Regions from separate parts of the Homo sapiens genome. Here all the other regions are linked to region 1. Evidence: fine-mapped expression QTL. A gene starts in region 1. Each other region holds a variant in brackets. All regions are shown on one strand. Distances are between the middles of the regions. Region 1 holds the start of CALD1 (caldesmon 1). Region 2 overlaps CALD1 (caldesmon 1). Region 3 overlaps CALD1 (caldesmon 1).

Evidence for each region. PIP is the estimated chance that this variant, and not a neighbour inherited with it, causes the effect.
Region 2: its variant is fine-mapped to the expression of CALD1 in nasal epithelium (TOPMed, PIP above 0.99).
Region 3: its variant is fine-mapped to the expression of CALD1 in subcutaneous fat (TwinsUK, PIP 0.95).

The regions. Positions count from the first base shown.
Region 1 is chr7:134,773,331-134,783,728 of GRCh38, forward strand. CALD1 (caldesmon 1) reads left to right here and starts at 6,304. Exons shown (of 15, transcript NM_033138.4): 1 at 6,304-6,419. All of the region lies in intron 1 of LOC124901750 (a long non-coding RNA gene), which reads right to left.
Region 2 is chr7:134,855,445-134,865,842 of GRCh38, forward strand. All of the region lies in intron 2 of CALD1 (caldesmon 1), which reads left to right. Among named protein-coding and RNA genes, the nearest start is that of CALD1, 81 kb to the left of the region's middle. The variant G/A (reference allele first, on the strand shown) is at 4,652.
Region 3 is chr7:134,886,840-134,897,237 of GRCh38, forward strand. The region is part of intron 3 of CALD1 (caldesmon 1); the gene reads left to right. Among named protein-coding and RNA genes, the nearest start is that of AGBL3, 94 kb to the right of the region's middle. The variant A/G (reference allele first, on the strand shown) is at 5,250.

The DNA.
Region 1 (10,398 bases):
GTGGCACAATCATGGCTCACTGCGGCCTCCACCTCCTGGGCTTAAGCTATCCTCCCACCTCAGCCTCCCTAGGGCTGGGACTACAGGCGTGTGCCACCATGCTCAGCTAATTTTTGTATTTTTCATAGAGACAGGGTTTCGCCCTGTTGCCCAGGCTGGTCTTGAACTCCTAGGCTCCTTCTTCTCAGCCTCCCAAAGGGCTGGGATTACAGGCATGAACCACCGTGCCCAGTTGATTTTTCTAAACCTTATCTTGCATTTCTTGAGTTGAATTTTTGTAAATTTCTGCCATCATACTTTTCATACACAAGCGTTCTTTTCTGTTCTCTGAAAGTGCCTTTTTAAAGCCTGATTTTCTTGTTCCATGGATACAATATCTTCTCTTATCTCACTGAGAACTGTAATTGTAGTTTTCTCCAAGTTTTCTTCCATTTCCTACCCAACCTCTCTTCTGTGTGTGTGTGTGTGTGTGTGTGTGTGTGTGTGTGTGTGTGTGTTTCTGTTGTTTGTTATAATCTCTCTTTCCTTAATGTGATGCTCATATTTAAGAGTGAGGTAGGCCGGGTGAGGTGGCTCACGCCTGTAATCCCAGCACTTTGGGATACCGAGGCAGGCGGATCACGAGGTCAGGACACTGAAACCAGCCTGGCCAACATGGGGAAACCCCGTCTCTACTAAAAAATACAAAAATTAGCCGGGTGTGGTGGTGGGCACCTGTAATCCCAGCTACTTGGGAGGGTGAGGCAGGAGAATTGATTGAACCCAGGAGACAGAGGTTGCAGTGAGCTGACATGGTGCCACTGCACTCCAGCCTGGGTGACAGAGTGAGATTCCATCTCAAAAAAAAAAAAAGAGTGAGGTACTAAGTAGCCAATTGGAAGTTGCTGCAAATGGGTTACTAAAGTGCACTGGACAATGTCTCTCAAATGTCTGTGAGTTTAGGTCTTTTTTTCCATGAGCATGCCAGTTTCTCTGGAATGGAATCCTTCAATTTCCTGTCTGTGGGATACAAACCTGATTGTCGGTGTCCTGGGAGCCCTGCAGGGTGAGGCGATTGGAGATGTTCAGTGTTCAACGAGTTGGCTTTCATTTAAACATTTATTTTCAGCACTCAGCCTCTTCCCTGTTCACTGCTTCACCTGGTTCCTCTGAGCCCAGCACTTCAAAGAAGAATCAGAATAAACTTCAGTTTTCCGTCTGGTTGAGAGAGAGATGCTCACCTGGTTGTGTGGGGTAGAGGACGCTATCTGGACTTCTAACTATTCCTTACCCAGACTTACAACAAATCTGTTTTCTGCTCCACCGCCTGTCCTCAGAGGTTCCCAGGGCTTCCATATTCCGAGGTTTTCCCGATTCTGAGGCTTGAATCAGCGTCCTTCTTGCTGGCATCCTAATTCACAGGACCAGATTTCAGTTTCTCAGCTCTGTTGAGTCCATTTCCAGCCATCTGTCCATTTTCCATAGTCCAAAATTTGCCTAACATCTGGACTTATGCTAATTCCTTTCAGGTACTCTTTGCTCTTTGTCTTGTAGGATTTATTTATGATTTTTTTATTGCTTTACTATCAGTCTGGAGAGGTTTGGGGAAGCAGAAATTAAATGAGTGTTCTTATGTGATCTGCCGTGTTTAACCATATCCTCAAATTTATTAGTCTTTTCATTTGTTAATTCTGTTTTTTATGTTATATACCCTATGATAAAAAAAATTCACCTTCAATTTTTTTCTAATCATTTCTGTTTGTTTTTTATATAACCTAGTTTATTATAGTGTGTAGTAGAAACTTTGAATCTAAATTTTCTGCTTCCACAAAATTGATTGTAACCCTGCCATTAATAGAGTGATCCACCCTTTTCTTCTTTATTTGTAATACTTCCTCTAAAATAATTCATATATGCTGGGGTCTATTTCTAGGCTTTCTGCTTTATTCTATTGATCTATTTGTTTAGTCTTGTGTGAATAGCACTTATCTTAATTAGAATTGTTCTATAAAAAAACCTCTTTGCCTATTTTTAGGTCTTTACTTTTAAAATATTTACTATTGTTTTGTCAAGTTCTACAAAATACGTCATTTGGAGATTTTAATTAGAATAATGAATGCGGCCGGGCACTGTGGCTCTCGCCTGGAATCCCAGCACTTTGGGAGGCCGAGGCGGGTGGATCAAGAGGTCAGGAGATCGAGACCATCCTGGCTAACATGGTGAAACCCTGTCTCTACTAAAAATACAAAAAATTAGCCGGGCGTGGTGGCGAGCACCTGTAGTCCCAGCTACTCGGGAGGCTGAGGCAGTAGAATAGCTTGAACCCGGGAAGCGGAGCTTGCAGTGAGCTGAGATCGTGCCACTGCACTCCAGTCTGGGCAACAGAGCGAGACTCCGTCTCAAAAAAAAAAAAAAGAAAAGAATAATGAATGCATGGATTACTTTGAGGAGAATATATATCTTTACAACTTTCAGGTTTTTCATTCATGAAGATGACATATTTCACCATTTAGTCAGGTTTTTCATGCCCTTAACTCAAGTTTTATAACTTTCTTGCACATATTTTGTTACATTTATTCCCAGGTAATGAACACTTTTTGTTATTATGAATAGCATCTTTTTCCACTACATTTAAAAATTAGAGATGGCTGATTACAGAAACTCTAGGTTTTTGCATCTTGAACTTAATTCCAACAATCTTGCTAAGCTCTTCTATTAGTTCCAATATATTTATAGATCCTCTCAAATTCTCTACACAGATAATTGTATAGCAAATAAAGACCTTTATTTCTCTTTCTAATCCCAGTGGCTATTTTTTCTATTTATTTGTCTTGGTTAGGTATCTAGCACATTTTTTTAGTTGTAGAAGAGATAGTAGTGGCTTTGTCTTTTCATTGATTATAATGGGAATGCTCTTAACATTTTATCATTAAGCATGACGTTTGCTATATATTTCTGGTAAATGCCTCTCATTATGTTTAAAAAGATTCTATTTCTAGTTTTCCAAGAGTTTTTTTTCCAAAGTGATTACTAAGTTTACCAAGTATCATTCACCTATTGAGACGATCTTTCTCTTTTCTTTTTTCTACTTCTCTTATTTATTTTATTTTTAAACTGCTAATGTTGTACATTATATCAGTGGATCTTCAGATCTTAAACCATCTCTGGATTGGTCTTATCTCTTTTTTCCACACTGTTGGATTCAATTACTAATTTTTTCATCTGCATTCATAAGTGCACTTAATCCAAATTCTCTATTGTGTTTGGTACTTTTGTGTCCAATTTTGATATCAAGATTCTACCAGCCTGCTTTTATTGTTTGATAAACCTGGGTGTTGGCAAAGGTTTTATCTGACTAAAAGAATCTGGCAAAGGGTGTTCTGCTGCCTTTTAAAACTTTCAAATCTTCTTTTCTATTGAATAAAGTAGGCATTTTAAGGTGGAAGGAGGTATGTTTTTCATGACTAAATGAAGTAACTAATTTTGAATTAAAAAAATGGCCTATTTTTACTTTTCCCAAGTTGACATGCAAGCAAAATATAATTTCTTGCTACTGATCTACATGATCGCAAACACTCAGTTGTAACTAAAAAAATATAAAGAATCGTCCAGATATTTCCAAATGTCTTTTTAGATTTATTATGGTTCGATTAAGTTGATCTAGCCTATGATAGACAAGGAGTCCTTTATCTAGGATGATCCAATTGGGAAATATATTTCACAGAAATTTCCTATATAAATCTCGTGTATTTTTAGGGCTGTTTACAAATGGCCTCTGGAAAAAGTAAATACTATGAAAGTAAAATTTCCCATGGCAGAGATTCAGCAACATGTATCTTTTTTTTTCCCCCTTCCTTTCTTTTTTAAATTCTTGATTGTTTAAAAAAAGTAAAAGGACAAAGAAAGAAGAATTTTTCAATATCATGGTACACACTACATGAAATTTGTTAAATTATTCTTCAACTATATAGTTCCTCCATGATAAGTGTATTTCAAATACATAAAATAGGTTGTGTGGTCACTCATCTACTATACCCTATATATGAGATATCCAGAATTTATCTATGGAAACATACTATTTTTTTTATCAAAAGACATAACCCAAAAATATTTAGCCATTTATCTTCTAAAAACCAGGCAAAATGCAGGTCCCTGCCGTGTTTCCTGTTGATAATATTTTCCCCATTTGTAGCACAACTTTTCTTTCCTCTGGAAAGCTGGTATTTATTTTATTCATAGATTGCAAAATTATACCCTGATGCTGTTCCACCAAAGGGCATTATTTATACAAGCAGGGAGAGTGTGGTTTAGGATATAAGCAGCAGCGGTAATGGAAAATAGCACTTTCAAACAGGCCTCACTGAGTTATGGAGAATACCACCTGGAGATCATGCACCCGGAACGTCTCTGGACACAGGTCATATCTTTGCACAGACATCACCAATTGCAGCTGTTTTCTGAACTCCTGATGTCTGCCCTACAATATGTTCAAGCCCAGCAGTTTACCAGACTATGTAGTATTATTCTATCTTTCCTTCCTGTCAGATATGGGATGTCCCCATCAGCAAAACTGGCCGTGTTCCGAAAATTTATTTCTAAATCATTTATCTGGGATCAGAAGACATTTTCCCACAGGAACAATTTTATAAACAGTGGTGTTCCACAAATGCCTGCTTGTGCCACAGTGTACCTGAAATGCAACATTGACTGTATGATTCCCACCAACCATTATTTATTCTTTTCTCTGGGAAAGTGCATTCCTCTTGGGATGCCTGAGGCTCATCTCTCCCTCTGCCTGGGAGCCTCAGCTATAGTTTTTTGGGCTGTGCAGCAGTAGCAGTCAGGAAGAGGGGAGGGAAGCAACCTTCCCAAAAAAGAGATGAGTGTAGAGAGTTGATATGGATGCCTCTGGGTAACTTGTTAATGCTGGAAGGCTGAAGAAGGAAACCAACAGTGCGAACTGGCTACTTCCCAACTGTTCTAAAAGAGGCACAAAGGGCAGGGACATTTTCGTAAACAGAGATCATTTCTAAGTCACATCTTCATAAACAGGGAAAGGCATATAGTAAAACCTCCCATTTTTAAAGACCAGTATCTGGACTTGTAATTAGCCAGGAAAAATATTGTGAAACTTCTTGGTCAGTGATGAAACAGTCTCAAACATATAACAATGAGACATAGATCTTGCACCTATCCCCAGGCCTGACAAATAGTAAGTGCTCCAAAAAAAGGGGATTTCAATTTTAATTAAGTACTAATTGAGTGAATTCTGTATTGAAAAGGACAAGACTATGTGTGGGCCAGTTACCTTAATTCTCATTAGCATCTACTAATTCTGACCCTCTTATAGCACACATCCTAACCATGAAGAGTTGGTCGGAGCACTTTCAAGACGTCACCTGAACATTATGTCACCTCTGCGGGATATATGCATCTGTCTACCCCAGCCCAAAGCAGGTGGTGGGTCTCTTCATACCCTCTCTGATGTGCATCAATTTCTAGGAATTTCTAGTACTATCTCCACATCACCAAATCTGAGGAAACAAAAGAGATAAGGAGAGGAAAGTGAAGCCAGTGAGGATATCCAAGCCTGTAGGACCTTAGGTTTATTCTGGCCAGTATTACCTGCTAAAAAAGACCTACGCTTTTGGTTTCCCTTTGGTCACTTATTTTTATAACACATGCAGACGTATTTTGGGGAGGTGTGCCTCTTTCAGGCTAGAATTTAGTCTGCTCAGCAGACCCGGGTCCTGTCTCCTTCAGGTTTTAGAATTGCATAACAATTTAAACTCATTTTGTATGTGCAAGTACTTTGAAAAGAAATATACTATTAAGACTCCCTCTGGTAAGAAGCCTTCCCCACCCCCACGCCCAATAAACTGATCTGTTAACTTTTTGTTTCAGAGACTGTGCTTTCTTTTTATTGCTGCATTTGTGTTCTACAAGACAGCCTCTTTCTCCAAGATTAACATTTCTTATGATTGTTCCTGACAATGGATTCACTTCCAGAGGCCCTGCTAAGGATAACCAAAAAAGGGCATGGAGCAGGCTGGTTTTGGCAGCGTGCACGCAGTTTCAGAGCTTTTTAGGTCTTGGGTTTTCTGATGAGTGATTTCCTGAGCATGCCTAGGGAATGACAGGCATCTCCACAGGCAGGCTGCATCCACCTTGGCTGGGGTGTCGTCATTGGCTGCCTATTAGAAAAACGACAGGACAATGCATACCACCGCCTCCCGACTGTAAACATAGGGGATATGTGTTCACTTAGCATGGACTTCTGGGAGGGGCCAAGGAAGGGCGGTCTGGAGTTTTATTGAATAGAGCAGTGTGTATTCGGCTGCCTGCCTGCCCGCCTGCTTGCTCTCTGGCTGTGCTCCTGCTTAAAGAAATCAGTCCTTCCTTTCCGACTTAGTCCTCGGGAAGAAGTTTCAGACTACAAGGTAAGGCACAGAAGGCTTTCTTTTTTATCTTCTAGAGAGAATCTGGGGACTTTCTCCGGCTTTCAGTCAACATTCCTGGCTAAGGTAGCTGGAGATGCAAGAATGTTCAAGGCAATAAACCATGCAAACTCCCGAGCCTGACTGGGCTTCACTGCCATACGGATATTCCCGGAAGGCAAACAGGATGAGATTTCCAGTTTTGTTTTTAGAATTGGGACAAGAAGAGTGACCATATAGAGACTTACATTTAGGGAACACTGGCAACTTTGATTAGGATAGCCTTTTGTTTAGGACAGCCATATGAGATTATACCTGATATCCAAAGGCCAGTGTTAGCAAGCCTACTGCACCAGACTGCTCACACAGTCTCTTCTGCATCTTTTATTGCCAAAGATTTGAAGAGGTTTTGCTTTAAAAACAAAATCAACAATCCTTTAGGTTGATGAGAAGCCAAAAGGGAATGATTTTTTTAACCAAAGGCTTTTGCGTTATAGTCTGCTGCCAGTATTTAAAACTAGACTTCCAGAGTTGCAAGGAAATACGGTCAGAGATGGAGAGATCACTAGCACCTAGCACTGGTTGGGTTAATGTCACTGATGGGATATTTGCTAAGACAGAAGATGCCTAGGCTGGTCTGTTTCCTATAAAACCTAATAACAAGAGAATGCATGCGCTAGTGGGTGTGTTTTTTTAGAAAGCACATTTAACGTCCTACCAAACTATTTTTTAAGAAATCTTTTTTTCTGTTTGAAAGTGTGCCTGAGTGTGTCTAGAGAATCTAAAGAGATGTCGATTGGCAATGTGTTTCAGAAAGGAAGGAGGCAGGCTTTTATATCTAGATAGACATATTTGGGTGTCTGAAACAGTAGTACAAGGCAGCTAGTTGGTAGTAGCCTGGAATTCCTTTTAGAAAGAGCTGATGGCAAGGGGTGGGGGAATTTTAGTGCTGTGGCAATACATGGTCAAAAAAAGTGGATGAGAACAAAGTGCTTGATATTTATAGATGCCTTCTATTAACAGGACTATGCAGATGGACTTGTAAACTGAAAATCCTTCTAATGTGTTTGTCAAAACCAGACATATACAGCTAGAACCTGAGTGAAGACTAGATGCTATATGGCAAGCAGGGTAAATCTGATGATTTTTTAGTAGTGCTGGCTATTAAAGACTACCAGCTGCAAATGACTGATTCAACTGGATTTTATTCCATGCAATGCGGTAGTTTGGGGTTGAGATTCATTAAATAAAGTTTTCTCTTTGTATTTAGAAGTTTGGGGATAATTTTCTTGGGAATGCCTATTTCTCCTTCTAGAAGTGATATATGAGAACAGAATTCCTTGTGAATTTCCTTCCCTGGAACAGTTCTGAGTAAGTGTGAGAGAAAAGCTGCAGGCAAAAGCTATAGTTTAATTACTGTCCTTCCCTCGAAGAGATCAAGTTCCAAACTATTTTCACAGTGTTTTTAATGTCAATCAAAATATGGAGAGCAATTTTTCTTTTAACTGTTCTCTAAACCATGAAGGGAATGCAGTTTGGAAGGAGATCTATAATCTTGGGATTTGAGGATAAATTCCATTTTGAAACCAACATCTCCGAATCCCTGAAAGTTCAAACTGTGCTATGACCACTCTCTCCAGATCCCCCATCCCCCTTCTCTTGGGCTCCCCACCCCCAACAACCATAAAAACACTCATTTTTTTCCAAGTAACACTTTAGGTGTTCTGCTGTTATAGGTAGAGATAGAGTGAGAGGATTTGAGTTTATGCTGAATTTTAGGCAGTTCTTTGTGCTACTTCCTTCCTGTTGAATGTTACCTAGAACACATTTCCCCACATAGTGAGGCCAAAGGAGCACAATGAAAACAGTAACTTTCATTTCAGAAATATAATCACAAAATTCCAGAACAAAAAGTCACTAAGAGTTGATCCTAGGACACACAAGGAATGTATGTACAATGGATTGATCCATAAGTAAAGTGCAGGGTTGTTTCAAGTATTCGAAGCAAATAGAAGGTGTAATTTAAATCATTCCAGTCAAAAGATTGCCTTAAGTAAATACACAATTCTTATATTAAAGTTAGGAGAAGGAGAACCAGGCTCAAACTGCAGTTTAAAGGATTTTAAATGAGATACATGAAAGCATTTCCTGACAGTAAGGCAACTGCCTTATTATGAGAATCATTAACAATTCTAATTGGCTCCTGTGACTGGCCTGAGAATCTCCTTGTCTTAGGTAGATAGAATAAGTTGATCTTATGGCCAGCCATGTAAAGGTCCAGAATCTAGCCCAGGTATTCTCTGTTCTGATAAATAAAATGCACCTCAGCAGGCATTTTTGTAGAAACACATGTAATTGTCTCCATTTGCCATTTTCTTGATAGCATGATTACCAGTTAGTCATTCCTTAGCAAGACGCAAAAGTGATTCAGAGATGGGCATGAAAAGAGATTTGCTAGTTCCCCATTTGCCTGTAGTCTATCACATGTCTCAGAAATGTGGTCGGGGGACAGGAAAAATGCTGATAGAGTGGTATGCAAATAGCATGGTAGGACTAAGGAGGAGGTTAGAAAGATGCTGCCAAAGAATTTTCAGACTTCAAAAGGGCGTTTTCTGCGTTAAGTTCTCTTAGGGCCTGAGAAGATACCATTAGCTCCTTACTGAAAGTCCTTCATCTGTCAGGCTAATCCAAGTTTGCTATTGGAGAGATGCCCATAAGTCCTGAGTAGATGGGTAGTTTAAAGAGAAACTTTTGGCACAGGCTTAACTTATGAGAACCACTACAACATCTCAGTTCTAGTATTGGTTCCTCTGCTTAAGTAACCCTGACCTTTTTGAGGAAATCATCAGCTTTTGACTTCATCTGTTGAGTGAAGAACGGACATTGGTAATGCTTCTCCGATGTCCCACAGTGGTTAAGACGTCCAAATGAGATGAAGCTGTTTGCTCCCTCTTCCCTGCAGATTCTATACCCTGAACTGCCTATCATTTGAGTCCTCTGGACATTATGCTCATCTTGGCTGGTATCCTCCACTTCTTACCTAGTATCCCTAATGATCTCTTCCTTTCTCGTATTTAAGGACCCTTGAGTGATATCTTCTCGCTCCTGGTTATTTCTAGAGCCCTGAGCCGTGTCCAGTGAATACTGGTCTATCCCAATGTTGTCTGAATTTTTACTTTGATGATCACAGACTAAGAGGACACAAATATAAGGAAGTGGAATAAGATGGGCCATCAGTGGTACAAGGCACCAGGAAATCCAAAGATCCACTTGAGCATAAGACCAGTGAGAAAGTGCTGACAACAGAAAGCCCTTAAGTAATTGAGGCAGCTTCTCTGCCTCCAGCCAAAAGCATGGAATGAACCCCGGAACGTCATGCCTGGGCCTTGTAGGAAGGGCAAGGAAGGCAGGAACACCTGGCTGTGGTTCCTGTTGGTATTGAAACCAGACTGCTCCACGGAGCTCGCCTCTCACCTCTTTGCTTCTGTCTTTAGTGCTCCCAGCTGTAACCGACCCTAGTTGCATCCCTAACTTCCTTACCCCCAGGCCTCCACCTGTAACCTCTTCCCCAGCTCCCCCATCCCTGTACCGGATAGGGAGCTTTCTTGATCCAACATTGACAATTTGCAGGGGCCAGCTCTAAGATGAGGCCCAGAGTACAGCAGAACACTCTAGCACAGATAGGTTCTAGCTAGGGAAAGCCACTTGCACAGACAGAGGAGATGTCAGAGCATGTTTTGTGGTAAGGACCCACTCTGCTTCTCACCCCAAACTCATAATTGGCAGGCTGTGGGTAAGGCTATGGGAGCGGGGTCGGGGGGAAACTATGACCTGGGCTGTGAGGGAGGGGTGATGAGGTTGTTCCCTGTGTTGTTCTTCCCTGTGTTGTTGCTATGGAAACCTTTGAGAATCTGATAAAAACTGTGAACCCTTAAGGTCCCTTTGTAAACCCACGCTTCATGATTGACAGGTAAGAGACCTT
Region 2 (10,398 bases), 82 kb after region 1:
AATCCCACAATAGTTTCTTGCTTTGTATACTTGAAAACATTCCCAAAGAAACAAAGTTGGATGCAGAAAAGATATTGGGAGAAAAGAAAAATAATACTCCAAATTCTGAACAATTCTACTTTAACATGTTGATCTGTCTGCCAGCTGGCCACAGGGTTGACTACTTGTAATATATACTTTTGGTAGGCCACATGTAGTTCTTGGAACTGTTTATATTCGGCTGCAGAAACTTAATTATTCTAAAATTGGCAGAGTGATCTTTGGTTACTTAATACAAAATTGCTTAGTCATCTTTAAACATAGTGTGGACAGCTTTTGTTTAAGTGTGAAAAATTAGGAATTGCAAATGTACTCCAAAGAGATTTTAGGTCAGGGAGAAAAACAAGAAAGTATCATTCTTTCAAGATATTTAGCCCGGTGGTTGCCACATGTTTTAATTTGACAAGCTAGGTAACTGTCGAGTTGAAGTCCTTGATTACAAGTATTTTTCCATTTTCTTTGTAGATATTGTCAGAAGTAGAAAGCTGTTGCTGCTGCTTCTTAGATGGTATTCTAATCCTACACTCTGCAAAGTATAGGTTTTTCAGCAAGAGTGTGAGGAACTCTAACATCAGCTGCTGGAACAGCTTTCTTGTTCTACGAAGCGAACAAGGATGCCATTTCAAGCTGGTTGTCACAAAGATCCTCCTTTTGCCTCTTTTGGTTTGAATCCTCGAACTGTTGCCTTCCACGTATAGTACAGAGCTATAGTGCTTTAGCGAGGAAACAGGCAGGCAGAGTGAGCTTCTGCATTTTTTAAAGTCTAAAGTGGCACCGGAAGTTTCTAGTTTTTCCAGGAATGCCCATGGCAACCTCACACTTTTCCTGTGATCTGGGCTGGGGCTCCTAAGAGAGATGGTGAGAAAAGATAAAAGTCCTGTAGCCAATGGGTAGCCACGCGAGGCCTGGGAAGGGTAGGTTCCCAAGCAAACCTCCAGAACGGTGCCTTATGTTTCTAATTACTGAGCATGGTTAGAGAGCAAAATCAGGCAACAGTTTTTTTAGACTGATGGAAACATTTAATTGGCTCTGAATGTCAGTGTTTTCTAATTATGATAGAGGGGTAGCAAGAAGTTTCCAAAGGCTGCGGAAATTTGAAGTGTATCAGCTGAATTCTGATTCTCTTCTTTTCTTATTCATCCTGTCTTCTTTTTCTTTCAACATCCAAGAACAAACCTATTCCCTCAGTTAAATGCCTAATACTCCTCTTCCTGAAATCGAAATGTCTCTCTAAGACCAAGTTCTTTTCCACTAGAGAAAAACAACCACAACTACAAATCAGAATATAAAATAGAGTTCCATAGTAAACCACCACCATTCCCAAGGTTACTAAGAGCTCAGCCAGAGAAACAGCCTTTTGATAACGTCTTAGCCAAGTTCATTTGTTTAACAACTAAGTTCAACAAATAAACACTGCCCTGGCATCTGTTCCAACTCAACAAGTGTGAGCCTAATGCGGAGTATAAGAAAAACAGTCAGTTAAGAACTTTGAGGGATCACGAAAGACAGTAATCATTTCTAAGAGATAACAACCTTTTACAGAAGACAAATATGTACTTGGTAATTAAAATACAAGCTATAGACTAAGTGCTCCAATAGAAATACAACATGGGTATCAGTACAAACTCAGGCTATTGAGTCAGTTGTTCAAAGATCCTATGGTTTTGCGCTATTCTTTTTTTTTTTTTTTTTTTTTTTTTTTGGAGACAGAGTCTCGCTCTGTCACCCAGGCTGGAGTGCAGTGGCGCGATCTCGGCTCACTGCAAGCTCCGCCTCCCGGGTTCACGCCATTCTCCTGCCTCAGCCTCTCCGAGTAGCTGGGACTACAGATGCCCGCCACCACGCCCGGCTAATTTTTTGTATTTTTAGTAGAGACGGGGTTTCACCGTGGTCTTGATCTCCCGGCCTCGTGATCCGCCCGCCTCGGCCTCCCAAAGTGCTGGGATTACAAGCGTGAGCCACCGCGCCCGGCCAGTTTTGTGCTATTCTTAAGCAGGCCCCAACTGTGAGCCATTCCCTACCTGAGGAAAAGTCCAGGTATCCCCAAACTAATAAATGAGTGAAACTGCTATCTAAATGACTCATTACTATCTAAATTACTATCTAAATATAAAGAAAGAGGAAGCAATCTAAGTACTTTTCAACTTATTATTTATCTGTAAATATATATGCTTAAATTATATGTCTGTTACATCCAAGGGACATAGCAGATAACATCCTTTAGTTGGGTTTCAAACCTTTCCACCTTGGATTATAAACTTCTAGAAGGTAGTTTTTAACCTGCTTTGCAGTTCCAGAATACAGTAAACACACTTGATGATCATGATGAATAGAAGTCAAATAATTCACTAGAGAATAATTAGTCCCTGATCAGTAACAGCTTGTCCTTCACATACAAAAATACTGCTATTAACAAAGCACCTCTAGAACACACCTTTGAATTGTTTTCAGCACTATAAATGGATTTGCATCCTGCCATCTAAGCTATCCTACTTTATATTAGCAAGATAGCTGGCCAAGGCTCTGTATCACTAAACTGGAAGTGTTAGTTGAACAAACCAGTCACAAAAAGCAGGCACATGAGTTGCTGACTTTTTTTTTTTTTTAGCTGAGTAGTTCAGCAAGTCCAGAAGGCCATGCACAAGTTAAACTACTTTTATGTAAAATATGGTGATCTCTGCAGCATGTTTACAACTGGGAAAGGCCCATGGCTTCTGAACTTTCATTCCATGTGAACCACTCTTGGGCCTTGTTACTTAACTTGAAGTGTGATCTTTCTTCAGCCAGTGTCTCAGCTTCTTTTGTATTTGCCAAGCATTTCACTTTCTCAGTTGCAAGTGCCCAGTCACAGCTAGATTGCCCCCATCCAAAAAGCCTCCATAGGAAAATGGAGAGAGTACCAATGAGGGAATTATGAGAGCACAGCCATGCTTTGAGATGCTGACCCATACAACACCCCACAACTTACCACATCTTTTCTATGAGATTGTAAGGTCTTTGAAGACAGAAACCATATCTAACATACCTTCATGTCTCTGAAGTGCATAGCATTACTTCACTCAGTACAATCATTTCATATTAGGAGTTGAAAGATCTCTTTTTTTTTTGAGACAGTCTTGTTATGTCACCAGGCTGGAGTGCGGTGGCATGATCTCGGCTCACTGCAACCTCCACCTCCCAGGTTCAAGCGATTCTCCTGCCTCAGCCCCTTGAGTAGCTGGGACTACAGGTGTGCGCCACCACACCCAGCTAATTTTTGTAATTTTAGTAGAGACAGGGTTTCACCATGTTGGCCAGGATGGTCTCAATCCCCTGACCTTGTGATCCACCTGCCTCGGCCTCCCAAAGTGCTGGGATCACAGGTGTGAGCCACCACGCCCAGCCAGGAGTTGGAAGATCTTATAGTAGAGCTGTCCAGTAGAACTTTCTGCAGTGATGAAAACATTCTCTGCACCGTCTTATATGGGGGCCACTAAACACATAATGGCTACTGAGCTCTTGAAATGGGACTGGTGAAGCTGAGGAACTGAATTTTAAATTTTATTTATTTTCAATTTAAATGACCTCGTGGCTGGTGGCTACCATATTGGACAGCATAGCCTTAGAATCTTAAAAAATATATTTTCGCCATAACCCTAAATAGATGGCCACTTCTTCTCCCTGGCTTTTTCAGGGATAGGGGTCTACCCTTTCCATGCACCCCCATTTTTGGGTAGTTGCGCTGGAGCCAGCCCTCCCTGTATCTGAATTATGTGTGATAATATTGTGAATGCCTCTGTTAGTCAGGCATACATTTAGAAAGCATCTTTACATATTTGTTGCAAGTCTACGCATTTTTTCTCACATGGACACAAGGTAGTGGAGAATTTCCACCTTGCCTTAGGGTTTACGCTTGTGTCATTTGTTCTTCTCTAGTGGCCAATAGAGCAGCATGCCTATTCTGATTTAGCATTAAACTCTGTCTTTCAGCCTAATTCTCCTTGAGTTCATCAAGGAAAAGTATTTAAATGCTTGAAAAGAAAACAGAAGAAGTCGTGTCCCAAATTTTCACTTCTCTTCATTCTTCTAAGAAACTTTCAAGTTGGTTTAGAAATTAGTCTAAATGCCAATCCTGGTTTTCCACTGATTTGTAGTGGTTAAGGAGCTAATGTCAAAGCTTTATATGTCTCAGTCTCCTTTCTTCAAATGGGGTTGAATTGATTCTTCTTACTTGGGAGGATCAAATAATGATAACCATAAAGTTTTGAAAAATATAAAGTGCTCCAAATTAAGGTGGTGATATTTGTGATAACACTTGAAGATGCAACCTAAAGTCCCTAAACATGGTGTCTTCCTAAGTGTTGAAGTTAGTATATACAAAAACCATCATTTCACAAATCTAAACTACTCAAACTGTCTGCTACTCAGAAGGTGAAAGAAAGGGCATAAAGACATTGGCTTTAATAATGTTAAATCTGCCAGGTCTTCTGTTTGCTAGTGGAGAAGTACAAATAGAGAAATGGTAATGCTAAGAGATTGTGCGGGGAAGGCAAGGGAAAAACAGGTCATAACCTGTTAACCTGCCCTTAGTATGTTGGATTCCATTGATTAGAGAAAAGAAACACCTTGAGAA[G/A]ACAAAGTGCCTCAGGTTGATTGTATTCACTCTTATTTCTATGCTGCTGTTCTTGACAGACCTGCCTTGGTAAATGCATGTATTTTTTTAAAGTAGCACAGATTTTTGGAACAAGATGGTGAAGGTTGAGCTAAAGTTAAGTGCAAACTGTACATTATAATCCATTTGTTTATTTGGTTTTTCAATCCCAAATGAACCATTGAGCTCAGAAAAGAGCAAAGTGGGTTGACAAATTGATTTTTTTTGAAAAGAACAAAAGTTCATTTGGTACAGTCGGAAAGAAAGTGCTGCCAGATTTACTGTGTAACTACTGCAAATGTGGGTTTATATAATTTTTGAGATTCATACATAGTCAATTACCAAGGTCTTTGATTCACTTTGTAAACACTGATCAGTCAATAAAGTACAGAGAGATGAATTGGCTTGAGTTACATTTTCCATACTCAGAATGGTAAAATCTAGAATAGAAATCCAGTGGCTCAAATTGGCTACAATTTCTGAGTGCCTACTCTGTCTCAATTGTGGAAAAATTTTTTTAAAGACTATATCTTTTCATAAGTGGCCTTAAGAACAAAAGCATATGGAAAGTAAAATACTAATACAAATATTTAAAGACTAGCTAAAGAGAACAATTGATGAGCTGTAGCTGACAGTGTGTTATTGATTATCAACATGAATTATAGATATTCAAGGAGGGAATTGTCGCTTTTAAGCTAGGGTTCTCAGGAAAGGGTATCATGAGGGAAGTAAAATTTGAGCATGAAATTCATGATTGAATAAAAATATGGATAGTGAAGATGTAGATTAAAAAGAATGAGTAAAAATGTAGAGGTAGAAAGTTGTAAGACATATTTGAGAGGTGATAAAATATTTTTATGTAGGATGCTGTGGTATGATCAGCTTGAAAGGAAGGTTAATGGTTTCTAGATCAAAAAATTAAATGAGAACAGACTTAGATACTCAACACATTTATGTCTGGGAAGGAGGAAGAAGCATGGATATGTCATGTGTGATACCTCCAGCTTTGCTGGCTCAAGCAGGTATACAGCCATAGTATTATTATGTGGCGTAAGATGAAACTTTGAATATTATCTCTCCAACCAGCTCACTTTATAGAGAAACAAAGCTCATAGAGCTTCAGTCTCAGTCTCCTAGGTCTCATTCCAGGTCACTATTTGCCAAGGGTTTGTGAAGGAAAACAGTTAAAGGGTCAAGGTAAGCGATGATCATTGCAGATCAGAGGTAGGAAATCTGCTGGAGTATGTTGTACCCAGAAATCACCCAATACCTGTAGGATGAAGAGAAACATCACTGAGTTGCAGCGATGGCCCAACTGAAATGAATGCAAATCTTTAGGATATACACGACATGCTCCCTTTCTCCCACAAAGCACTGAATCTCAAGAACACAAAACAGAAAGCAGGTGATAGGTGTGATTCAAGGTTGAAGATGGGTGTGACAAGCCTGGTGGAACTTTAAAGAAGCAAGAAAGTCTAAACTATCAATTCCAGGAAGGCAAAGACCTTTTCTGTCTTGTTCACTGTTATACCCCAGTGTCGAGAACAGTACCTGGCACATAGTAGCTGTGCGGTAAATATTTATTGTATATTGATTGTATAAATGTTTTTGTGAGGCCTCACTGAAGTAGCTGAATCATGAAATTTACAGTGGGTGCAAAATGATGGCTAGTCAGAGAGGACCTGTCTAATAATGGTTTTGAGTGTTCCAAGACTAGAGTTCCTTGCGAGAGCAGAGAAATGATGATGTTGTGAATGAGGATACAGTGGGTTAGAGGAGGAAGATGTGTAATGAAGAAGGTACAATATAAGAGAAGAAACTAAGATATTGAAGAAAAGTATGCAATGATGCTGTCGAGGATACAGCCATCCTGAGTTACGAATTTTACAAAGCACTAACAATAAATTAACAGAGATGAAATAAGCATTTGGAAGGCTAATTCAATTGAGATCTTTTGTGACTTGATAATTCTATGATTTAAACCAAACAGGTTGTAAACCGAAGGCATAGGTAATTTTTAGGATTATTTCTTACCTAAGGTTATATGATCCAATGAATCAATGTGGCAATCACTGATAATAGTCCTCTCAGAACTTCTTTGGGGCACTCTTGTTTGTTCCCTGAAATGGGAAACAAATCCTAGAGAGAAATAGTGGATTAGTCCTATTATAGTGGTTAAGTGTATGCACTTTGAAATTCCATAAAATGGGGATTATACTAGCTACCTCACAGATCTGTTACCCAGATAAAGTAAAATTACTTATATTTTAATGGCCCAGCAGAGCTATCAGCCATGAAAAGACTTGAAGGAAACTTAAATGTGTGTTGTTAAGTGGAATAAGCCAATCAGAAAAGGCTACAGACATACTGTATGATTCCAACTATATGATATTCTGGAAAACTCAAAGCTGTAGAGACATAAAAACATCAGTGATTGCCAGGGTTTTGGAGTAAGGAGAGGGAAGGGATAAATGAGTGGAGCAGGTGGGGTTTTTAGGGCAGTGAAGCTATTCTGTATGATGCTACTATGGTGAATACATGACATTCGGTATTTGGTGAAACCTATGAAACTGTGCAACAAAGAGTGAACCTTAATGTAAACTATGAACTTTAGTTAATCATAATGCATGAATACTGGTTTGTCAATTGGAACAAATGTACCACACTACTGCAAGATGTTCCTAAGTTTCCTAGGGCTGCCATAACAAAGTACCACACACTAGTTGGTCTATAATAACAGTAATTTCTTGTCCCACTGTTACGGAGAGTTGAAGTTTGAAATGGAGGTGTCAGCATGGCCAGGCTCCCTCTGAAGGCACTGGGGAAGGGTTTGTCCCATTTCTCTTTCTCAGCTTTCTGGTGGCCTTAGGTCTTCCTTGTCTCCATTTTCTCATGGCATCTCACCATGTCTTCACATTATCTCCCCTCTGTGTTTGTCTGTCTCTGTGCCAAATTTCCCCTTTTCATAAGGACACCATCATATTGGATAAGGGACCACCCTAATCACCTCATCTTGACTACATCTGCAAAGACTCTATCTCCAAATGCAGGAGAAAATGTGGGCAGGAGTTGGGGAGGGGGGAATATATGGAAACTCTGTACTCTCTATTCGCTTTTTTTCTGCTCTAAGAAATAAGTCTATTCATTAAAAATGTTAAAGGCTTAAAAAACAGCCTGCCACATAGTACATATTCAATAAATGTTAGTTCCTTTTGGATGCTGCATTAACTTATTCAGTGCCCCTGACACAACAGATTTTATTCTTCTTGCATTCCAAGATCAATACTGGCACTGCCCAAAAAGTAGATAAGACTTAGCTTCTTCCACATGGCCTTGTCCCTAAGTGTTGAGTGCTGGGTTAGCCACCTGCTCACAAACATCTCCTGCCTTGACTGCATTTACACACGTGCTCATGCACAGGTGACACAGGTGAGCATACCCACACACACCTAAAATGGCTTATCTGCCACCAACACTGACCCAAACAAAAGCAGAAACTTACTAGTTCCCCTTATAAAGGCATCACAGGAAATATCTATAGTGAGGGCTACATGCCCATAGAGGGAAAAAGAAAAACAGCAAAAAAGAATATAAAACATAATACATTTCTTGGTTGAAAGATGCACATCAGCTATTGAACTAAATTTTTAAAGGAAACGAGCCATAAATTGATTTTAATAAATATAAATATACTTTCATTTCCGACACAGGGTGGGAGACAGAGAAGAAAAAAAAGTCACAAAGAAAGAGAAAATTTTTTTTAATGTCAGAAGAAATACCACTCAATATTCTGCCTTTGAAAAGAGGCAGAGAAAAAAAAGCAAGGAGGAAGGAAAGGAAAGAGAGGAAAGTCCCGGAAGCCCTGGCGTGGTGGTAAGATGCAGGACACGCCTCTCGTCACATCATGCCAATCCCCTGGGCCGCAGGCTCGTGGCTTTGTTCAAAAAGAAGGGCAGGCTGGGTGCGGTGGCTCATGCCTGTAATCCCAGCACTTTGGGAGGCCGAGGGGAGGATCACCTGAGGTCAGGAGTTAGAGACCAGCCTGGCCAACACGGTGAAACCCCGTCTCTACTAAAAATAAAAATTAGCCGGGTGTGGCGGTATACACCTGTAATCCCAGGTACTCAGGAGGCTGAAGCAGGAGAATTTCTCGAACCTGGGAGGCAAAGGCTGCAGTGAGCCGAGATCGCGCCATTGCACTCCAGCCTGGGTGACAAGAGTGAAACTCCATCTCAAAAAAAAAAAAAAGGAAGGGCAGTGTGTTTGGTGATTTGAAATCTTTTTTCTTTCCTTTTTTTTTTTTGAGATGGAGTCTCGCTCTGTCGCTCAGACTGGAGTGAAGCGGCTCAATCTCAGCTCACTGCAACCTCCACCTCACGAGTTCAAGTGATTCTCCTGCCTCAGCCTCCTGAGTAGCTAGGATTATAGGCACCTGCCATCACACCCAGCTAATTTTTTGTGTGTTTAGTAAAGATGGGGTTTCACCGTGTTGGCCAGGCTGGTCTCGAACTCCTGACCTCAAGTGATCCACCCACCTTGGCCTCCCAAAGTGCTGGGATTACAGGCATGAGCCACTGCATCTGGCCTGAAACCTTTAACACTGACTTATTTCTTAATCATGGCAGTTTAGGCATGCCCTGTTTTAAAAGAAAATCCTATCTATGAGAATCCATATTGAAAACACAGACATATCCATAGGTAATGACATCTGCCTCTGTTAAGGTTTTTGTTTTTCCCCTCTTTACAAAAGAAGTCACCTCAGTAAATTTTTCAATAGCATGACCACAGTCCCTCCTCCAGCACAAAAATTTAGATTTTCATAAAACTCTCCGAGAACGCATCATCTGTCACTAACATCAATACTTAGCTCTTTCACACTACTCTATTTGTGACACCCAGAGCCTCACGACTGATGGAATCACCCTGTCTTGACTTTTCATCCCTTCATTGGTTGAGAGTTTGTTTCCTAACCAATGTTGCTGAAAAGAATTCAGCACTGAGTAGGGGTAGGGCAGGAAATGAGGGATTACTGCCTGGGGACTGGGGACGTAGAAGAGAAAAAGAAAATCACTTACCATTCTACCTAGACATGTCTCCTCTTACAAAGGAAAGATGCTAGAGAAGGGCTGAAAAGCTCTGTGATATAAGGGTGCAGGGATGAAGGAGGATCTCCAGCCCCATCCTGGGTTGATACCGAGAGCCATTTTCATAAACACATACAGCTTCTCTCCCCCACACAAGACACACACACCACCGAGAGTCATACCACATGGTACACAGATGTGGTTTTGTGCTTTCCTCTAAGCTACACCCACTCGTGTGCACAAAGCCTCACCTAGAAAAGCACTGGTCTGTAGGAAATGGCACACGCTCTCTCTCTCCCTCTGGGTGCCCCCACATGTATACTCAGCAGCATTCAAATGGCAGGTAGTTTTTCTATGGCTGGGAAAGAAAAAGTGCTCAAGTAAGCAAGAGAAGGTGAGGAGTGGGAGAAGAGAATGGGTAGGAGAAAAAGAATTTGCGTGGGTTAAGAGCCAGTGAGGATGGTCAGCCAAACTGACCTCACGATGTTAGTTTCACTTCCCTTTTAAGTATTCCAAGACACTGCCCGGCTCTGCAGACCATGTGCATCTCCAGCCTGCTTGGAGATATTCATTTCACTGCTCATTAGCACCTCTACCAGAGGTATAGGCTGAGAACCACTGTTGCTGACAAACAGCCAGAATGAC
Region 3 (10,398 bases), 110 kb after region 1:
TGTCTTATAATAGAATTTTTGTATACATGTCTTATCTCCCTTTAGGACTGCCCTTCTTATCTTTGCATCCCCCACAGCACTTAGTGCAATGACTTGCTTGTAGTAAACATTCCAATAGTGCTACGCGAAGCAAAGCAAAAAGGAATGTGCTGGGACAAAATAAAACTACATGCTCACCATTATAAGGGCAATAAGACAGTGTCACAACCCAAGCCCCTATTACAGGCCTAGAGACAGATGAGGCAAAGAATAATTAAGAAACGTGTATCAGCACAGGCCATGAAGACGCTGGTGAAGAACCACTGGAAGACTAGGATGAGGAGTAAACTGTGATTTTTCCACAGCAGCTCCTGCATTCAAGATCACAGGACATGACAGAGCAATATAGTTTAAGTGAACACGTTCAACGCCATGGCAGGGGCAGGGGATGGGAGATGCCGTCGTCTATGAGGGGAAAACTATGAGAGGCCAACAGAAAGGAGGAAAGAGATGCTGCCTTTGAATATGTAAACTCCTTTACCTACATTCCTGTTCACCTTGGGGTGGGGGAACAGCTGTCTAGGCAAGATTTTTTGCCTAGTTCTAAGAGTACAGAGCCTATGAATTTCTTCATAAGAAAATTTATCTCCAACAGCCTTTTCAAACGTCCCCTTTGTACTACTCGAACTGTTGCCTCCCTAGTGGTAGATTTCCCTTAGGTTTATGTGTTTCCATAGTAAGTGAATGGCTCTGTGCATGTTATGTGTGTGCATGTGTGCGTATGCATGCATGCGTGTATATGTGTGTGCCTGTGTGTACATGCATGTCTGTATGTGTGTGCATGTGTGCGTATGCATGCATGTGTGTGTATGTGTATGTGCATGTGTGCATATGCATGCATGCGTATATGTGTTTGCCTGTGTGTGCATGTGTGTCTCTATGTGCCTGCGTGTGTATGTGTGTGCATGTGTATGTGTGCGCATGTGTATGTGTGTGCATGTGTGCATATGCATGCATTCGTGTATGTGTGTGTGCCTGTGTGTGCATGTGTGTCTGTATGTGTGTGTATGTGTGTGCATGTGTGTCATAAGCGCATTAGGGCATATGCACAGCACTTCCCACATACCTCTCTTCCCTAGGGAATTGTTTCAAGGTAGAAGCTGTTCTTAAACAACTGCTGCAGACTCTAAAGTCTGGAACAGATCTTGTGGTCCGGTCTCCCACCTCCATGAAGTAAAGTTATTTTTAAAAAATCATATTTTCTTAATAAAGGACCACCCTGTGGTGGGAGCTGTTCCTTTCTATTACAGTCTGACCTCCCTCAAACCTTCCCAGCCCAGAATCTCTTTGATGAAAAATTAAACAATAAAGTGTCCAGAAACAAAGGATACTATGAGTAATCTCAGAATGGCCCAGACTTTCATTTTTCCTAGTAAGAGTCCTGAAGCATCATCAAATTCATGATACCTATTATCTTGCTGAAGGATGACTGGCCCACTTGTTCATGGTGCCAATGAATAGTCATTAGTTCACTTCTCAGAGACACCAGTTCTGGCAGCTGGACACTGGGTACCATTCTCTGCTATGCAGTGAAAGCACACAGGCCTGTAGGTCTCTGCAGGACCAGAACACTGTGCACAAATAACCTTTAGATTGTTATTTCTCAATCCTCTTACCTTGCCTCTCCAGCCCCAGGCACCAGGTCTCAGAGGACTCTTGGAAGCACTTGCCTAGCCCAGCCCTGCTCTCAGCTCATGATTCACTTGTTATCTCTATGCGTCTTCCCGCGTTGCCTGTCTTTCATTGGCCTTTGTGTTCTTCCTCTTCCCAGAGAGTGTCTGAACCAGGTCCAAGACTCACTTCTCTCTTCACTCTTCCCATGTCAGTACCCTACCAGGTAGCATGAGCTATAACACCACTGGGTTTTACTATCACAAACTGAAGACAGACAGCTGCTTCCCAAATGCATGCCCCTAATAACAAAGGAGGGTGCGCGCTGTTTCCCTTTCCCTCTTTTGGCAATTAGGGAAATAGCCTGGTGGACATCCTGTGTACAGCTGGCAATTAGCACACTTTCTGTACATGGATTCTGCACATGAGTGGAAGACTACTAAATTCTTGCTCTCCTCCATGGAGAATACTGGCCAGAAAGAACCACAATTTTTTTTTCTAGGTTTTTCCATTTTATGAACCTATTCTGAATATGCCAAAACCATACCTGTCACCTCAGAATTGGCGTGGGGGGCTGGGGAGGAGGGAATCAGGAGGTGATAGCTTTCTCGCATGGCTGCGACAAATAACTAGAAACTTGGTGGCTTTAAACGACACAACTTATTCTGTACAGTTCTATAGGTTAGATGTCTGGCACAGGTCTCACTGGGCTAACATCAAGGTGTCAGCAGGGCTGTATTCCTTCCTGGAGGCTCCAGGGGAGAATCCATTTCCTTGCCTTTTCCAGCTTCTAGAGGAAGTCACATTCCCAGGCTCTTGGACCCCCTCTCCATCTTCAAAGCCATCACCAGTCTGTCTGCCCACCCTGACAGATAAGCTCCTCTAACCACAGCTGGAAAGGGGTCTCTGATTTTAAAGAGCCATGTGATTCATTCCAGCACACCTGGATAATCCAGGATGCTCTCCCCATCTCTATGCCTTTAATTTCATCATATCGACAAGGTCCCTTTTGCCACGCAAATTAACATGTTCTCAGGTTCTGGAGATTTGCGGGAAACGTTATTCCACCTACCATAGAAAACCACCGACTTTTGTAAGTAATTGAAGGGAAAAAATTAATTGGGCAAAATTCGGTAGAAAGAGAAGCAGCAGAATGCCTCGATACATGTTTCTGTCTCAGTTCTAGAGCGAGAAACTCAGGACAAGTCAGTGTATATTTAAGTCCTCTTGTGTGAAGGCAGATGTATCTCTACTTTTATGGGTGTCTTATGTGCTACTTTCATCAATATATGTTCGGTGATCATATGTGTAATCAGAGATATTTAAATGCATATATACATAATGATATATAGAGATAATTAACTTTAAGTTTATTAAACTGTATTTACTCTATAAACTATGACTTCATTTTTTGTTTTGTTTTGTTTTTTGTTTTTTGAGATGGAGTCTCACTCTGTCGCTCAGGTTGGAGTGCAGTGGCGCCATCTCAGCTCACTGCAACCTCCGCCTCCTGGGTTCAAGCAATTCTCCTGCCGCAGCCTCCCAAGTAGCTGGGACTACAGGCACCTGCCACCAAGCCCGGGTAATTTTTGTATTTTTAGTAGAGACGGGGTTTCACCATGTTGGCCAGGCTGGTCTCAAACTCCTGACCTTGATCCACCTGCCTCAGCCTCCCCGAGTGCTGGGATTACAGGCATGAGCCACCTCGCCTGGCCTATAAACTACGACTCTGATGACCGCATAGTATTTAAGCAAGAAAACAACCAAAATGTTCTAGCTAAAGTGGAGACCACTTAACCTAACCCAATTAAACTTTAAGTTGAACACAAGAGTAGTAGATGCAGTTCAGCTCCATGACATTGGGTGAGTTGTCTAAATGCTCTGTGCTTTGGTGTCCTTGTCTGCGTGTGACATGAAGCCGCAGATCTCAAAGATCTCTTTCATTCCGTGAAAGCGCTCTCAATGTGTGAAGTTGACTGCTTCTCCTGCTGTTTACCAAGAGAATAATCTTAACTCTACATTGTGGAGATCGGATTTGTTCTCACTTGACAGAAAGCCAGTCCCACGAGCAGCTTGGTACCCAAATACCAGTCTGTTTAGTGCTCATTAGAGATGAAGAACCATATTCATAAGTCAAGCTGAGACGGAGTGTCATCTCCAGACAGAATCAACACCACCCCCTCCTCAGGAACTGGGATTTGGCTGCTTTCCAAGCCGCTGCTGACCAGGTTCCATTGCCCAGCTTGGCTGATGAGATCACTGGCAGAGTACCATGGGTGCAGACGGGGCCTGCTGTTTCAACATGTTCTCAGGAGGGCTCTTGCCCACATTTCTTGGAGAGGTGTGAGCACCAAACATGCTGAACCATCCAGCCCATCACTGAGCAGGGCCATCTCTCTTCATCCCTTTTCATTTGGTTTGCATTTTTATGTCATGCTCCTTCCCTGGATAAAAGGGATAAGAGGAGTTTCTCAGATTTGATTTCTCAGTGGGAACTGTTTGCTTTGGAAGCCACCTACACCAATGCTAATTGAGAACAGAGCTCAGAATGGGAGCCTGAGAACTGCACCCGGATGAACTTTTTGGTGGGCTGATTTCTGTTGATCTTGTCAGAATTAGGTTGTATATGCATGTAATACCATGATCAACTATTTTCCAAAAGGCTGAGCAAATGCATCAGTGTCTTTTTCCTTTGACCAGTTACTTACCTTGGAAAAATTATTTGTAGTTAAGCATATAAAGTCTTCATCAGGAAAACTACTGGAGATCCTGGCCCTGACTACCCAGCAATAACATTTCTGGAACTCCCGAAGCAATCAGTGCTCTCTGATCGCTAAACATGATGGGCTTCTATTAGAGAGATTACAGTAAAAAATAACAATCAGCTCTCTGATGATCCTGTGAGGAGGGAACGGGTTGGGAGGAGTAGATTTGGCTGAGGACAAGCCCAGACTTTCGTCACAGGGACAGACCAACGTGTTAACACAAAGGGAGAACACGGGAGCATCCTGCACCGTGCATTTCAGCCACAGATCACATGGCCCCTCCGCGGGCCCAGCCCACGCCCTGACCGCCCGGCCTGGCCAGGTCTCCGTATCTCTCTGCCCCGCCGCCCCTTCCCAACTGCGGACATGCTGGGTGGATCCGGATCGCATGGAAGACGCAGCCTGGCCGCGCTCTCCCAGTGAGTCCTCATTTCGTCTCTTTGGTTTTTTCCTTTCTTTTTTTTTTTTATAAAAAACAAACGAATTGTTGTAAAAAAAAAAAAAAAAAAAAAAATGTGGGAGTGGGAGGGGAGAGGAGGAGACACCAGGCAGGAAAGGAATGCAGTGAGTGTGTGAGTTTCAGACCTGTCTGAAACTTTCTGGTTTCCACTTCATGGTTGCTCTGATTCGCTGGCTTTTCTCGTTTCCATTTTAATGGTGGTTTGTGGACCATTTGCCAGGAGTTTATACCTAGGCACGGGTTTCTCCGTTTCAAATACCAATCCATAAAGCATTGTGTTTCTAAAGGTCTGCTGTTAATTTAGACCTTAGCCCTCCGTTCAGAATGATCCATTTGCAGGGCTCAGAGATTTTGGCTAAAGCACACATTGCCCA[A/G]TCCTTAGAGTAAACAGCCAAAGCCCTCAATATACTGACCATCTGACTAAGACAGAACAAGACCCAGAGCATATGCTATTGATCAGGGAATTGTTCAGATAACGGACTCCAAGGGTTTAGGATCATGAAATCCTGGAATGTTAAAGCCAGAAGGGAGGCCTTTAGACTCTTTGGTGCAATGCTGTCTTTCAATAGGCAGGGAAACAGAAACCAGAGGGGCAACTCAACTTACCCCAAAGCAGACAACAGTCGGTAGCAAAGCCATGTCTTTGTACTCTCATGCAAAGGGCCGTTTTCACACTGGTGTTTATGAGGTTTGAAAAACTTACTGGGTCTTGGGAAAAGGTACCGCACAAGAATTAGAACACCAAATGGCCTTTCAGTAAATCTTTTCCATTTTTGAGAGTTTTGGCACCGATTCAGCATGACAATTGTTGTTCCAGTTGTTCCAGCGTTTGTGCAACAGTTAATCAAATAAACAGAGAAACTCATCAGGGTCCTAAAAACAAGACCCATGTCCATTACATTAGCAGATCTCTTGGAGAGCTAGTTTCCGTAAGTGTGGTTGGTTATTCACGTGGGAGAGCTCAAAGGGACTTTAGACGTTATCTGTATAGTCCAGTGCTTATCAAACTTTTTAAAAAATCAAATTTAATCTTAAGGGGAACGCTATTGTATAAAGGAGATGTTCTGGTTAAAGAAAAGGTTTGGGATCTAGAGCTCCTCATCCTCGCTCTACTCTGCAGTCATAGCCCACTGCACAATTCTACCCCTCTCCTCATCCCTCTTCTACCCCACCTCCCCACCCTCTTCATCAAAACTTCCTTGGAATCCTAGGTCTCCATGGAATAGTTCAGAAACCACTGATCTCATTGAAAGCCTTCATTTCAGATGAGGAAACTGAGGCACAGGAAGGGCTTGCCCAGGGTCACACAGCTGATCAGCAATAGAGCGTGGGATGCTAGGAAAAGAGCCCAGTCTGGCTGGCTGTCTCTCTCTCAACTCATGGTCCTGAGGCTTGTTTCCACTCCTTCATGCCTATGATTCTATCAGTCTCCTTTCTCTGTGTCTCTCTTCTCTGTTTACTCTGCCATTTCCTGGATTTCAACAGCTATTACCTCTCACCGGGATGGTTGTCATTGCCTGCCATCTGGTCCTCGGCCTCTGTCTCTCTCCCCTTTCTGATCCAGCCCCCTACAGCCCCCACCTATGAAGATAAAGTCCATTCTCCTTACTACAGCATTCAAATTTCTCCACAACATGCCTTCACTATTTCTTCCCATTCTGACTTCCGCCAGGGAGAATGTTAAAAACATTGTGGGGAAATAAATAAATGATGGGCATAATTTTACCAGATTCTGCAGAAATGACAAAAGAAATGCACACAGGGATGTCGAGATTTGTAAAAACTATAGGAGTACCTGATCCGGTGAAATAAGATCACTCACAGCTCCCCAAACTCAGCATATACAAGCCACCACTGTTTCTTGACTCATTCTATTCCCTACACAGGGAATACCCTCACCCTCCTGTTTCTGACCTCCTTTCTGTTCTGCAAGGCCCTGATCAAATGCTCCCTTCCTCTGTAAACCTTCCTCATTCCTCACTTCTCTCACTCTAATAACCTTTGCCCATCCTTCTATTACTAGCTTTGTACCGTCAATCGAGGAAAATGACGAGGCAAGTCTCAATCATTTTAGGAGGTTTACTTGCCAAAGTTAAGGATGTGCCTGGGAGATAGGTCTATGCCTTTATCTGAAGATGATTTTGAGGGCTCCAGATTTAAAGGGGAAAGGGTGGGGATATTGAGAAGTACACAATTTTCATCTAAGTGAATCTGTGTTTTGTACATAAGATCACATAAACAAAGGGGGCAGAGGAAAAATGCGGGGAATCTGCATTTTACGTATGATAACAGACAAAATGGGGTAGGGCGACACTCAGATATGCATTTGTGTCTGGTGGGCCAGGGTGACTGCACCTATAAAGATAAGCTGTCCATTTGCATTGCCATGGTGAAGTTTTAACAGCTCTCTAGGAATGTCCTTGTGGACAAAATATGGGGGAGGCTTGTGTAGCTTTTCACCTTGTAGCCATCTTATTTAGGAACTAAAAGGGGAAGGCTTTGAGTGACCCAGTTCCCGGCTTGACTTTTCCGTTTGTCTAAATGCGTTCGGGGTACCAAAATTTAATTTCCTTTCAATAAAGTTATTGTTGAACATAGCTATCTTCCCTCCCAATAAATGGCAATTCACTTGAGGGCAGGAATGATTTTGAATCTTTGAAGCTTCAGCATCCAGAACAGTGCTGATGCTCCAGAAATATTCTTTAAGTTTCCTATTATTGAGTAAATCAAACTCAATTCCCCTTAGTTTACCTTTTTCATTTGAACCGTTTGAACACACAAAGCCTTCACTCCTTTTGCTTTGCTAGACGTACTAGGTTAAATGCTAAAACAGGTGCTCAACAAAATGAATTCTAAGTTCCTTTGCATTTCCATCAGATAATTTATCTCTGTTTCATCACCTGTAGAGCAAGATTGGCTGTGATTTTTTAATGAGACATGTTAAAATTCCTGAATGCCAAGACCTACACAAGGGCCATGTTATTTTCAGGAGCAGTCGTGAATGGTTGTTCAGTTATTTAGATTTCAAGGCATGTTTAATTTGTTCCTACCAAGATCACTGAGAGATTCTGTCACTTGCGGTTTAATATTTTCACTGGTACTTTTATCATTTTCCCAAAGCCTAAGGAAGTTTACTTGCAACAAGATTTGGGGTTTCCTGTAAATATTTGTTTTAGTCCATAAAGGGTTATTTTTCTTATAGAGAAGTGTGCTTTTATATATCTTGCAGCTGAAAGTTAAAAGTTTTTTGTGTGTGTTACATTTTGTAACAAACATGGAAGGGTATGTAAATTGTAAAATCATGGAGTCAAGGAAACGTAGGAAATTATTTAGTTCATCCCACTGTTTTCTGAGGGAACTGAATCCAAAACAGTGCTGGGAAATAAATAAATAAATAAATAAATAAATAAATAAATAAATAAATAATTGGCACAATTTTTAAAGATTCTGCAGAAATGACAAAGGAAATAAACATAAGAATATTGAGATTTGTCAAAAGTTTAGGAATGCCTGGCTTATTCAATGTTATCAGGAAATGTAGCATTATAATTATCCAGGATGCTAAATTTGGTTTTATATATGTATGTGTGTGTGTGTGTGTGTGTGTGTGTGTGTGTGTGTGTGTGTGTATGTATTTAGTGGAAACTCTTTGCCTTCATTAAAGCAGATATTACAACACATTTAAAACATTTTCAAATTGCTAGGAGCTGTCCTTATGAACATAGTTTTTTAATCATGCTGTAAAACAGTGATACCTCAGGGGATAAGACTCCCATCCAAAAATGGGTCCAGTTATTATGTGATGTCTTCCATCACATAATATTGATGCTTTTAAATCTCTTCTAATACCTATTAATGCATCTGCCTGTCATGGTCCCGCTCCCTGTTCTGCTGTAGCCAAGAGTAACAGGACACCCATTTGTTAGAATTACGTTCAAAGTAAAAATCAACAATCTGGTGAGAGAGGCCTTCTCTCCTACAAAGTAATGGGCACTTACATTTTGTGACTATTGGTTTGTAGGCCAAAGTGTTAAATATAGTGAACTTCCAGTTTCTCTTCAAAGAATCAGTATGTCAGTATGTTCAGCTTTCTTATTTTTTAATTCTTGATTTCAAAGTTTAACTTCCTGGTTCTCTCTGCCCACTTGCTTCTAGTTTCAGTAAACAACTTTCCCACCAGTCCTATTCAGTAGGTTCACATCTGTTCCCCTGGTCACCTGCTCTGTCCTGTCTCATCCTGGTCACGTGCTTTGACCTGAATCACCCCTGGTCACCTGCTCTGACCTAAGTCACCTTTGGTTACCTGTTTCTAACCATCCTTCCCGCCAAACTACTCACCCTGCCACTCTGGCTCATATCCCTGCCCTCTTTAAAATAGCCAGTCGGAACTGGCTTAGACTGTGTGGTCCAACCCTAGCCAATAGGGAACAACACAGCAGTAGGGGCCGCCTGCATCAGGAATAAGAACTCCTGCCCCTCCCCTGTCCAGGTGTGCTCTCGCCATTGTTCCATCTTCGAGGGGCACCCTTTCTGCAGAAAGTAAATTTTGCCTTTCTGAGAAAATTGCATTTATGTTCCAGTGCTATTTCTTTGTGGCACTGGGAAACAAGCATTTTGCATTTCTAACACTGACCAATTTGTCTACTTTTTGGTTCAAAGAAAGGTTTCAAATGATCTGGACCCTTTATCTGGTTATGGATAAAATTGCTACTGCTGTTTATAGATTAAAAATAAAAAAGAATGGCAGAGAAATAGGTCACTGTGCTTTGCATGTATTGGGTACTCTTCTATACAAGATATTGCAGCACTGCACGAGCAGTGGTGATTATGGAGGTGGTCTTGACCTTCTGTATATGTGTCTTCTCTACAAATGGCCAGCCCACCCACACTCACACTGGTTCAATACCTGGTGGCCACAAGCCTTTCAAACCTATTGAACAGCAATTTGCATTGCTGTCTGCGTTTTTCCCTCTCCTTACCTTTGATCTATTGATCCTTGAAATGAGCCCTGCCTATGCTGCTTCTCACATTCCTCTCAGCCCATCAAAATCACTTTATAGAGACAGGCCTAACAGTGGCAAGAGGAATGAGAAATGGGGAAGAGGTCCTCTGTCCTCTGGAGGCGAACTTACCCCTGGCATTTTTAATCAGACTAGTGAGGATCCGTTTCCCTATAGAAACACAGCTTCGTTTCTCCATACCAGCTTCAGACACACCTTGGGTTTAAAAAGGTGGTTGTAGGCTGGTCTGAGAGCCCGACTACCATGTGTCATGCTGTTGAAAGTTTCAAAAGCCAATTTACAATGAAGGTCTTGGAAACAACCTCTTCATAAATGTAGTGCTGCCTGGATCTATTTCCAAGCCTAATTGAATTTTTAAGAGGAGTCCTTAGAAAATCTGTAAACCTCATTCATTTCCAGTCATTCATTCAGCAAATACTCATTGAGGGTTTCGCATTCTAGTGAATACTGCTGTACTGACTGAGCATTAAGAACATCAAAAAGGACAAAGCTCAGGCTCTGG